2 separate regions of the Homo sapiens genome follow, and region 2 is linked to region 1. The links come from fine-mapping of genetic effects on gene expression. A gene starts in region 1. The other region holds a variant in brackets. All regions are shown on one strand. Distances are from middle to middle. Region 1 holds the start of MNDA (myeloid cell nuclear differentiation antigen). Region 2 has its middle 47 kb from the start of PYHIN1.

The links. PIP is the estimated chance that this variant, and not a neighbour inherited with it, causes the effect. A credible set is the group of variants that fine-mapping cannot tell apart.
Region 2: its variant is the best candidate, but not a certain one, in a credible set for the expression of MNDA in blood mononuclear cells (TOPMed, PIP 0.87).

What each region holds. Positions count from the first base shown.
Region 1 is chr1:158,829,202-158,833,606 of GRCh38, forward strand. It overlaps MNDA (myeloid cell nuclear differentiation antigen), which reads left to right and starts at 2,150. Exons shown (of 7, transcript NM_002432.3): 1 at 2,150-2,356. It also overlaps a transcript of OR6N1 not described here.
Region 2 is chr1:158,882,761-158,887,165 of GRCh38, forward strand. No RefSeq gene overlaps it. Among named protein-coding and RNA genes, the nearest start is that of PYHIN1, 47 kb to the right of the region's middle. RefSeq lists an enhancer at 3,667-4,166. The variant C/A (reference allele first, on the strand shown) is at 2,055.

The DNA.
Region 1 (4,405 bases):
AATTTCTGCAGCTGGCATGAATTTCTCCTCAGAAAATGGGATTTTCTTTTCTATTGCATTATTAGGCTGCAAATTTTCCAAATTTTTATGCTCTGTTTCCCTTTTAAAACTGAATGCCTTTAACAGCACTCAAGTCACATCTTGAATGCTTTCCTGCTTAGAAATTTCTTCCATCAGATACCCTAAATCATCTCTCTCAAACTCTAAGACACACATCTCTAGGTCAGGGGCAAAATGCTGCCAGTCTCCTTGCCAAAACATAACAAGAGTCACCTTTGCTCCAGTTCCCAACAAGTCCCTCATCTCCATCTGAGACCACCACAGCCTGGATCTTATTGTTTCTGTCACTATCAGCATTTTTGTCAAAGCCATTCAACAAGTCTCTAGGAAGTTCCAAACATTCCCACATTTTCTTGTCTTCTTCTGAGCCTTCCAAACTGTTACCTGCTACCTGTTACCCAGTTTTAAAGTTGCTTCCACATTTTCTGGTATCTTTTCAGCAATGCCCTACTCCTGGTACCAATTTACTTTATTAGTCTGTTTTCATGCTGTTGATAAAGACATACCCAAGACTGGGCATTTTACAAAAGAAAGAATCTTATTGGACTTAATGTTCCACATGGCTGGGGAAGCCTCACAATCATGGTGGAAGGCAAGGAGGAGCAAGTCACATCTTACGTAGATGGCAGCAGGCAAAGAGAGAGCTTGCTCAGGGCAACTCCCATTTTTTAAAAACTATTTTAAAACGATCAGATCTCATGAGACCCATTTACTATCATGAGAACAGCATGGGAAAGATCTGCCCCCATAATTCATTCATCTTCCACCAGGTCCCTTCCACAACACGTGGGAATTATGGGAGCTACAAGATGGGATTTGGGTGGGAACACAGAGCCAAACCATATCAGGGCAGAAAGCTGTCCTGAAACATGGTAACTCCTGTCGTGAGCTCTTTTGGTTCCCAAACACTGAAGTGGGGCACCTGATAAGGTTTCCTTGTGTTCCTCTTTACCCTTTACCTTAAGACCTGCTCGAAGCATCAGCATAAGAGAGAAACTGAAACAATGAACACCCACATGTGTTAGTGGCTGTCATTCTAGATCCTCTTGGTTTTTTCTGATTTACCCTGCTTTAGTGGGGTTTAGACAGTTTCCAAATCCAAACTTTAACTCTCTCTATGCTGCTGGTTTGGATTAAGACAATCAGCTTTATTCTTCTCTGTAGATGGCCTTGGATCATTTTCCCCTATTAGCTGTTTTGGGATCCTTTTCCAGTCATGACCACATTTTGCTTACAGATCAGCTAGTTGGTAACCACAGCACTGTCTGCTAACTGATACCATTCATTTGACAATTCAGAGTTATGATACTTTGTAGTGCACCCACTGTTCTTCACAGGAAAAAAAAATTGCAGTACAAAGGGTTTATCAGGCCCCCTATCATTCCAGAGTTTCAGTGCTGTTCCAGAATGTTCAAGGTTTCAGTCATGATATGAACCAACTATCCATAAATAATGCAAAAAGCATGAGTAATCATGAATTTAATAATCAAGGTAAGGCAGCTCAGTTATTATACTCAAGAGAGCAACTAGTATGAAACTCTTTCAAATTATTTGAATAAGGATTTACATATTCATAATGACTTTCTGCCTCTGTCAAGCTCCAGGTGTATCAGTTATTAATAACTGGGTGAATATGTAGGTACTATTTAAACAAAAACAATTTCACAGTAGACCCACCCCTATCCAAGAGATGAAGTCAAGTTCTGGTAGCAATAGACATCTCTACCAAGATCTCCTGCTCCTGCCACTCTGTGAACAGGAAAGGAGGGAGAAACTTTGGTGTTTTGCCTTTCCCAATTTATATTAAGATCCTTATTCAAGCGGCTACCGGTTTCTAATGACCTATATGTAAGTTAGCTTTATAAGAAAGTTCTGAGTTTGAAACTCCTTTCAGCAAGTATTTGTAAGTCAAAAAAGCGAAGAAGAGGCACCATTTACTGTCATTTCTCCTTGTGACTGAGATTACTTACTACAAAGAGGAACTGACCACTTTCTCTGACATCTGAAATAGAAAGCTACAAAGGCTGATAGGCGTGGCTTCAAAATTGTTTCATGATTACATAACTTCTTTCTAGTTAGGAATTAGGACAGTGTAAGAAGGCCATCTACAATCAAGATTGAGAGTGGCTCTAACAAGTGCCATTTTTCCTTGTTAGCTTTCATTTCTCAGCCCTTTACAAGATTAAAATAGTCTGCAGTTTAATCTCTCCAAAGCTTTACGGACAGTGATTCTGTCCTAAACAAGACAGTGACTCCAGGATTTCTGAAGACTATTGTGGAAGAAGCATCCATTAAGGTGAGATTTCTGGGAAGTTCTTTAGAGAAAGATCTAGGTATCTAGTTGGTAACCACACCATCTCAGTAGAGAATAATTGCCTGAGACCAGAAGTGTTGTTATCAATCATATTCAGAAAACTGAGAACTGAATGCTTTAACTGTCTAGGTAGCAAATGGATATCTTTTATTCTACCACAATTGGGGTATGAACCAAAAAAATGTATTTTGTCTACAGCAGGTTTTAAAAATTAATTCTTGGGTGTCTTTTGGCATAAATTGATATTTAGAGGAGATACTTGGTTTTCTTGGCTGGAGGATGACTTGGTGACTGGGTTTGGGCCTAAGTTAAAAGACAAGACAGTCAGATAAGAAAATTATTATGAAGTAATATTTAGTAAAAAATAAACCAGGATATAAATCTCTATTATATGATTTTATCTCTATTTTAAAAAGCATAGACATGTGCACACATTAATTTCTCAATTTTACAAGCATTTACTCAAAAATAATCTTTACATTTTCATGAATCAGTTTCATTTTATGCTTCATTTTACAACAAGTGTAAGAAGAAATAATTCTCTTTTTCAAATGGTCTATGCTTTACTCAGTCATAGATAACATTTTTTGTGGCAAGGTATAATGAAAAGACAGGGAGAATCAATTATATATTTCCTACTTTGGGATACATTTTGACTTTTTTATGGCTTTGTACATATGAATGTTTTCTAATTACTCCATGAGTACTTGAGAAGAGTTTATAAACGTTGGATTCCAAATTCTATTTAAGTAAGATAAAGTTTCTTAAGTAAGCTTGTTAATTATGTTTGAAAAATCTAAATCTAAATCTAAGCTATTTTTTACCTTGTTCTTTCAGTAACTGAGAGATGTGGTGAAATCTCCAACTCTAATAGTGATTTTGTTAATTTCTCATTGTAGTTCTTTTGATTTCTACCATATATTTTTACATAGAATATGTATATCTAAGTATATATGTTATGTGTGTGTTTAGAGAGAAGAAAAAACTTCTATATGCTACTTTATAAAGTAATAACAGATTATATTTATAATATAATTTAAATTATTATATCTTTTTCCAAGTTGCATACTTTACCATTATGTAGTGAAACTATGTACTGATACTTATTGACTTAAGCCTATTTTAAGCTACACTATTTTTCCTAAAAAGTCTTTCTTTAAGTTAGAGTTTGAAGAATATAACTTTTCCAGCTCTTTCTCAAACTTAAGTGAACTTATGCTTTATTTGTACTTTGTCAACAACATATGACTGGATTTATTTTTAATCCAAATTGAAAATTTTTCCTCCTAGTTGATGAGTTTAGTCCAGATATGCAAATTCTATAAAGGTATATATTTTAACTTGGTTTTGCCATCTTACTTTGTTTCAATTTATAGCACTTATTCTGTGCTTTCTTCTTCTCCTTTCTTGTCAAGTTTCTTATTTTTAAAAAATCTATATTCTCCTTAAAGACAAGCCCCTTAGCAAACTCTCACATCTTCTGGTCCCCCAAACATACAACTTCACCTGTTAAGAGTATGTTCATATAGTTCCTGTTTTCTTTTATTTGACTCTGGCTTTACTTATTTTTAAGATAGTAAAAACACTAATTAAAGTATTTGCTTGATCTTTCTTCCCTTTTGGCCTCCAACATTTCTTAGATTTATTTCTTTTCATAATGAGTAGTTCTTCACAAAGAGCTGTGGGTATGGATATTTTCACTGCCAAGCTTCTGAAAGCTTTGAATATAATAATTGTTTTCTTTTAATTGTGTTAAGAAACATGTAACATAAAATGTGTCATCTTAATCAGCTTCAAGTGTACAGTTCAGTAGTATTAAATACATTCATATTGTTGTGCAACCAACCTCCAGAACGCCTTTGCATCTTGCAAAACTAAAACTCTAACCGTTAACCAACAATTTCACCATTCCCCTTTCCTCCAGAGCTTGGCAAACATCATTCTACCTTCTTTCCCCATAAATTTAAAAACTCTAACTCTTCATATATGTTTAATCATACAGTAAGCGTGTGCTTTTTGTGACTGGCTTTT
Region 2 (4,405 bases), 54 kb after region 1:
GTACTCTATCCCAACTGGAGCTCATAATTTTACTTTGGATTTTGATATATTTACTTTGTATAATGAATTGTACTACCAAGGTTGAATTCTAGTTGTGACGTGCAATAAGTATAATAAATGGATTGGCTAACTTTCTCCTAAGTGCAAATACTTTCAGCAGCTATGCATATGATCTAAACATTTGTGCTGTCTCCCTTCTGTCTTATTTACTTATTTATTTATGAAGATAGTATTGAATAAAAATTTTGAATTCCATGATACTTAGAAGATAAGGTAATCGAATCCTCTCATTTACAAAGTAATAATAATAATAATAATTAAAAGGCACAGTTTTACTGATATGTCCATGTCCAAATTCAAGGTGACAGCATGACACATTCAATTCCTCCCTAACAGTCCTCAAAAAAATTACAAACTGCTATGAATTCAACTAACATTTCACATGATTGACTGCTTTGTAACCCTACATACATATCTTCTAAGTTAGCCCCTTAAATTTACCTCCAGATTTTCCTACACACTCTATAAGAGATCTCGCATATAAATGGAATTATACAATTGATGAATAATAGCTTCTGTGTGTAAGATACTACAATACAGGAACCATGGATGTAGTCAGGAATGAAAAATGGCACAATATCAAGTGTGAGGAAGGAGATAAGTTTTGATTATTCTGCTTTCATCTAAGAACAATTGACTACAAGCTAAAATTGATTTGTAGAATTCACATTTTTATCAAGGTGGGAACTGGATAGAGGAACATTAGTTTGCCAAAGAAGTAAATGATTTTGTTTAGGCTTCAGGAACACTAGATTCCTATCCTGTTACTCAGACAGTCCAGCAGGTGGGAGGAAAATCCAAACAATGTCCTTGCACTCATTTCTACGTAGAAGAGTTTTTAATGATATTAAGGAAATAGTATTCTTATAAGCTTCAAAGGAATATTCAAAAGGATTATAATACTTGTGCTAAGTAATAAAGTATTTAAAGAAATTAGGATGACAGGGAAGTAATTTCATATAGTGTTCAAGAGAAAGGGTTATGAATAAGACAAATCTGATTTGAATCCTGAATTCAACACTCATTAGTTGATTGATATTGGGGAAATAGTTTCACTGATCCTCTAAAATAATGGAAGTCTCCACTTCATCAGCATGGTTAAAATATTAAGTGAGACAATGCGTATTTATGCATATAAGTTTACATATATGTAAAATTTATATAACATATCTCACTGCCTAGTACATCATGAGAAATTAATCTATGGTAAGCACTACTTTTCCTATCACGGCAAAGATATTGGAAGGGGATCTAAGCAATGAAAATGACACACGCAAATGCTCTAAAGTGTGAAACTGCACTGTGAGTTCTGTACAACTAAAATTCTATAAAGAGTTTCTATGAAGAAACTATGGAAAGATGCAGCACAGAATAAAAATTGGGGGCGGGGGCAGGTGGTAGAGTATAGCTGTTTGTCAGAAATAAAGAAACAGAAAATTCATTGTGAAAAACAGATAAAACCTAAAGATTTTATGCAGAAGAATGTCTGATCACATTGACACTTTAGCAAAAAAAAAAAAAAAAGGTATTATGGTAACAATTCTAGAAGTATGCATTAGAGAGGCATTAGGTTAGAGCAGAGATATCAATTAGAAGCAATGATGTGCCCAAGTCAGCTCTCACCAGAACACTTATTGCTAAGTATTTGGGGATTTTATGAACTGTTTGTAAAATCTTTGGAAGTTTGAAACTAGCATAGTGGAAATATTTAGGCCAGCAAAATATGCAAAGGCTACAAATAGATATTTTCTAAAATTGGGCAGCTAGTTTACCAGGACACCACGAAAGGTTTCTTCAGATTTCTATTTAAGAAGGAGAAAGACAAACAGGGCTGTGATGAATGGAGTAAAATATTTTTTGAAGCTATATCCTCATGATTGTGTGACTAATTAAGTGATGATGTTGAGAAAGATAAAAGATTTAAGGAGCATTCAAAGATGATTCAAGAATATTATCCAGGCAACTGTATAAATGGTGCTACTGTTCACTAACAT[C/A]AAGAAAGCAGAGAACAGCACAGTCTAGGAAGTGAAAACATGTTGTTTGGACAAGTTGACTTTGAGCTACCTGTTGGATATCTAAGAAATATCTCTCTATCAATCTGAAGATATATAGATCTGTATAAACAGATCTGGAACAAAAAAAGTAATTTTGTACTGGCGAGTTATGCATTTGTACATTTAGAGATACATGTTAAAATTATGGGTTTAGATGATATTATCTAAAATAATTGTATAATTCTACATTTATACTAATAGAAAACTGAGCACTCACTATGTTTGGGGAAGTGAGACAATAATGAAGCTATAATAATTATTCCCATATCATAGATAAAGATACCGATGCTCAGAAAATGTAAGCAATACACACCAATTGAAACAACCAGTTAGTGGTGGAACTGACATTCCAGCCCAGGCTGTGTAGATTTAGAATGCAGATTCTTAAGCAAGGTGAATGAGAAGATCAAACTGCCATAGGTGGAGCCATAGAAAAGTTGGATATATATTTGGGGGTGACTACAAGTAAAGGATGCTACAAATGAGGATGAAACTATGTACACAGAGAGGTCAAAGATAAAGTGGAAATATGTATAATATGCATCAAAAATAAGTTTAACAAGGAAGAGGGTCAACACAGCTCATGTCAGACTCAAATAAACAAGGAAGTCTTGGAATAACTTCATCTTAGACCAAAAATTGCTATACTTTAGTGAAAGGCAATTGCTGATTCACAGAAGAAAACATGGCTGGCTCTCCATAACATCATACTAAATATCTCATTCTCCAAAAGCACACTAACGACAAGCACAAAGGTTCACAATAGGAGCCTTGATAACACTAACCAAAGTTAAATTTAAGTACAAATGATTAAAATGGAAATAGTGACATAATCAGGCACACAGACATATATATGCACGTAAATCGTTCCACATCTCAGATTCCCTAATTCAATAATCCTTTCATTTCAATTGAAACAACCATAGTTGTACTGTGAAAAACCTTACCTAATATCCTCCTGCCAACATTCTGCCTAATTAAAATCTTCCCTGAATGTTTTGCACTGAGTAAATAAGCTATTCCCTGTCACCTGTGGTACTGCCTTACTGCCTTTGTTTAACTCCTGCTCTGTTTAAATGTACCCATAATGGGCATGAGAGCATATCTCTATTCAGACTCCAGACCACAGCTGGGAGCAAGCAGACTCAAAAGATGGTAATACGTCAAAGGAGATTGCTGAGAGAGAAGCAATGACCATTGAGATTGGAGTAAAAGAATAATGTAGCCGAGGAGGAGGAGCCAAGATGGCCGAATAGGAACAGATCGGGTCTACAGCTCCCAGCATGAGCGACGCAGAAGACGGGTGATTTCTGCATTTCCATCTGAGATACCGGGTTCATCTCACTAGGGAGTGCCAGACAGTGGGCGCAGGTCAGTGGGTGTGTGCTCCGTGTGCAAGCCGAAGCAGGGCAAGGCATTGCCTCACTTGGGAAGCACAAGGGGTCAGGGAGTTCCCTTTCCGAGTCAAAGAAAGGGGTGACGGACGCACCTGGAAAATCGGGTCACTCCCACCCAAATACTGTGCTTTTCCGACCGGTTTAAAAAATGGCGCACCATGAGATTATATCCCGCACCTGGCTCGGAGGGTCCTACGCCCACGGAGTCTCGCTGATTGTGAGCACAGCAGTCTGAGATCAAACTGCAAGGTGGCAGTGAGGCTGGGGGAGGGGCACCCGCCATTGCCCAGGCTTGCTTAGGTAAACAAAGCAGCTGGGAAGCTCCAACTGGGTGGAGCCCACCACAGCTCAAGGAGGCCTGCCTGCCTCTGTAGGCTCCACCTCTGGGGGCAGGGCACAGACAAAAAGACAGCAGTAACCTCTGCAGACTTAAATGTCCCTGTCTGACAGCTTTGAAGAGAGCAGTGGTTCTCCCAGCACCCAGCTGGAGATCTGAGAACAGGCAGACTGCCTCCTCAAGTGGTTCCCTGACACCTGACCCCTGAGCAGCCTAACTGGGAGGCACCCCCAGCAGGGGCACACTGACACCTCACAAGGCAGGGTATTCCAACAGACCTGCAGCTGAGGGTCCTGTCTGTTAGAAGGAAAACTAATAAACAGAAAGGACATCCACACCAAAAACCCATCTGTACATCACCATCATCAAAGACCAAAAGTAGATAAAACCACAAAGATGGGGAAAAAACAGAACAGAAAAACTGGAAACTCTAAAAAGCAGAGTGCCTCTCCTCCTCCAAAGGATAGCAGTTCCTCACCAGCAACGGAACAAAGCTGGATGGAGAATGACTTTGACGAGCTGAGAAAAGAAGGCTTCAGACGATCAAATTACTCTGA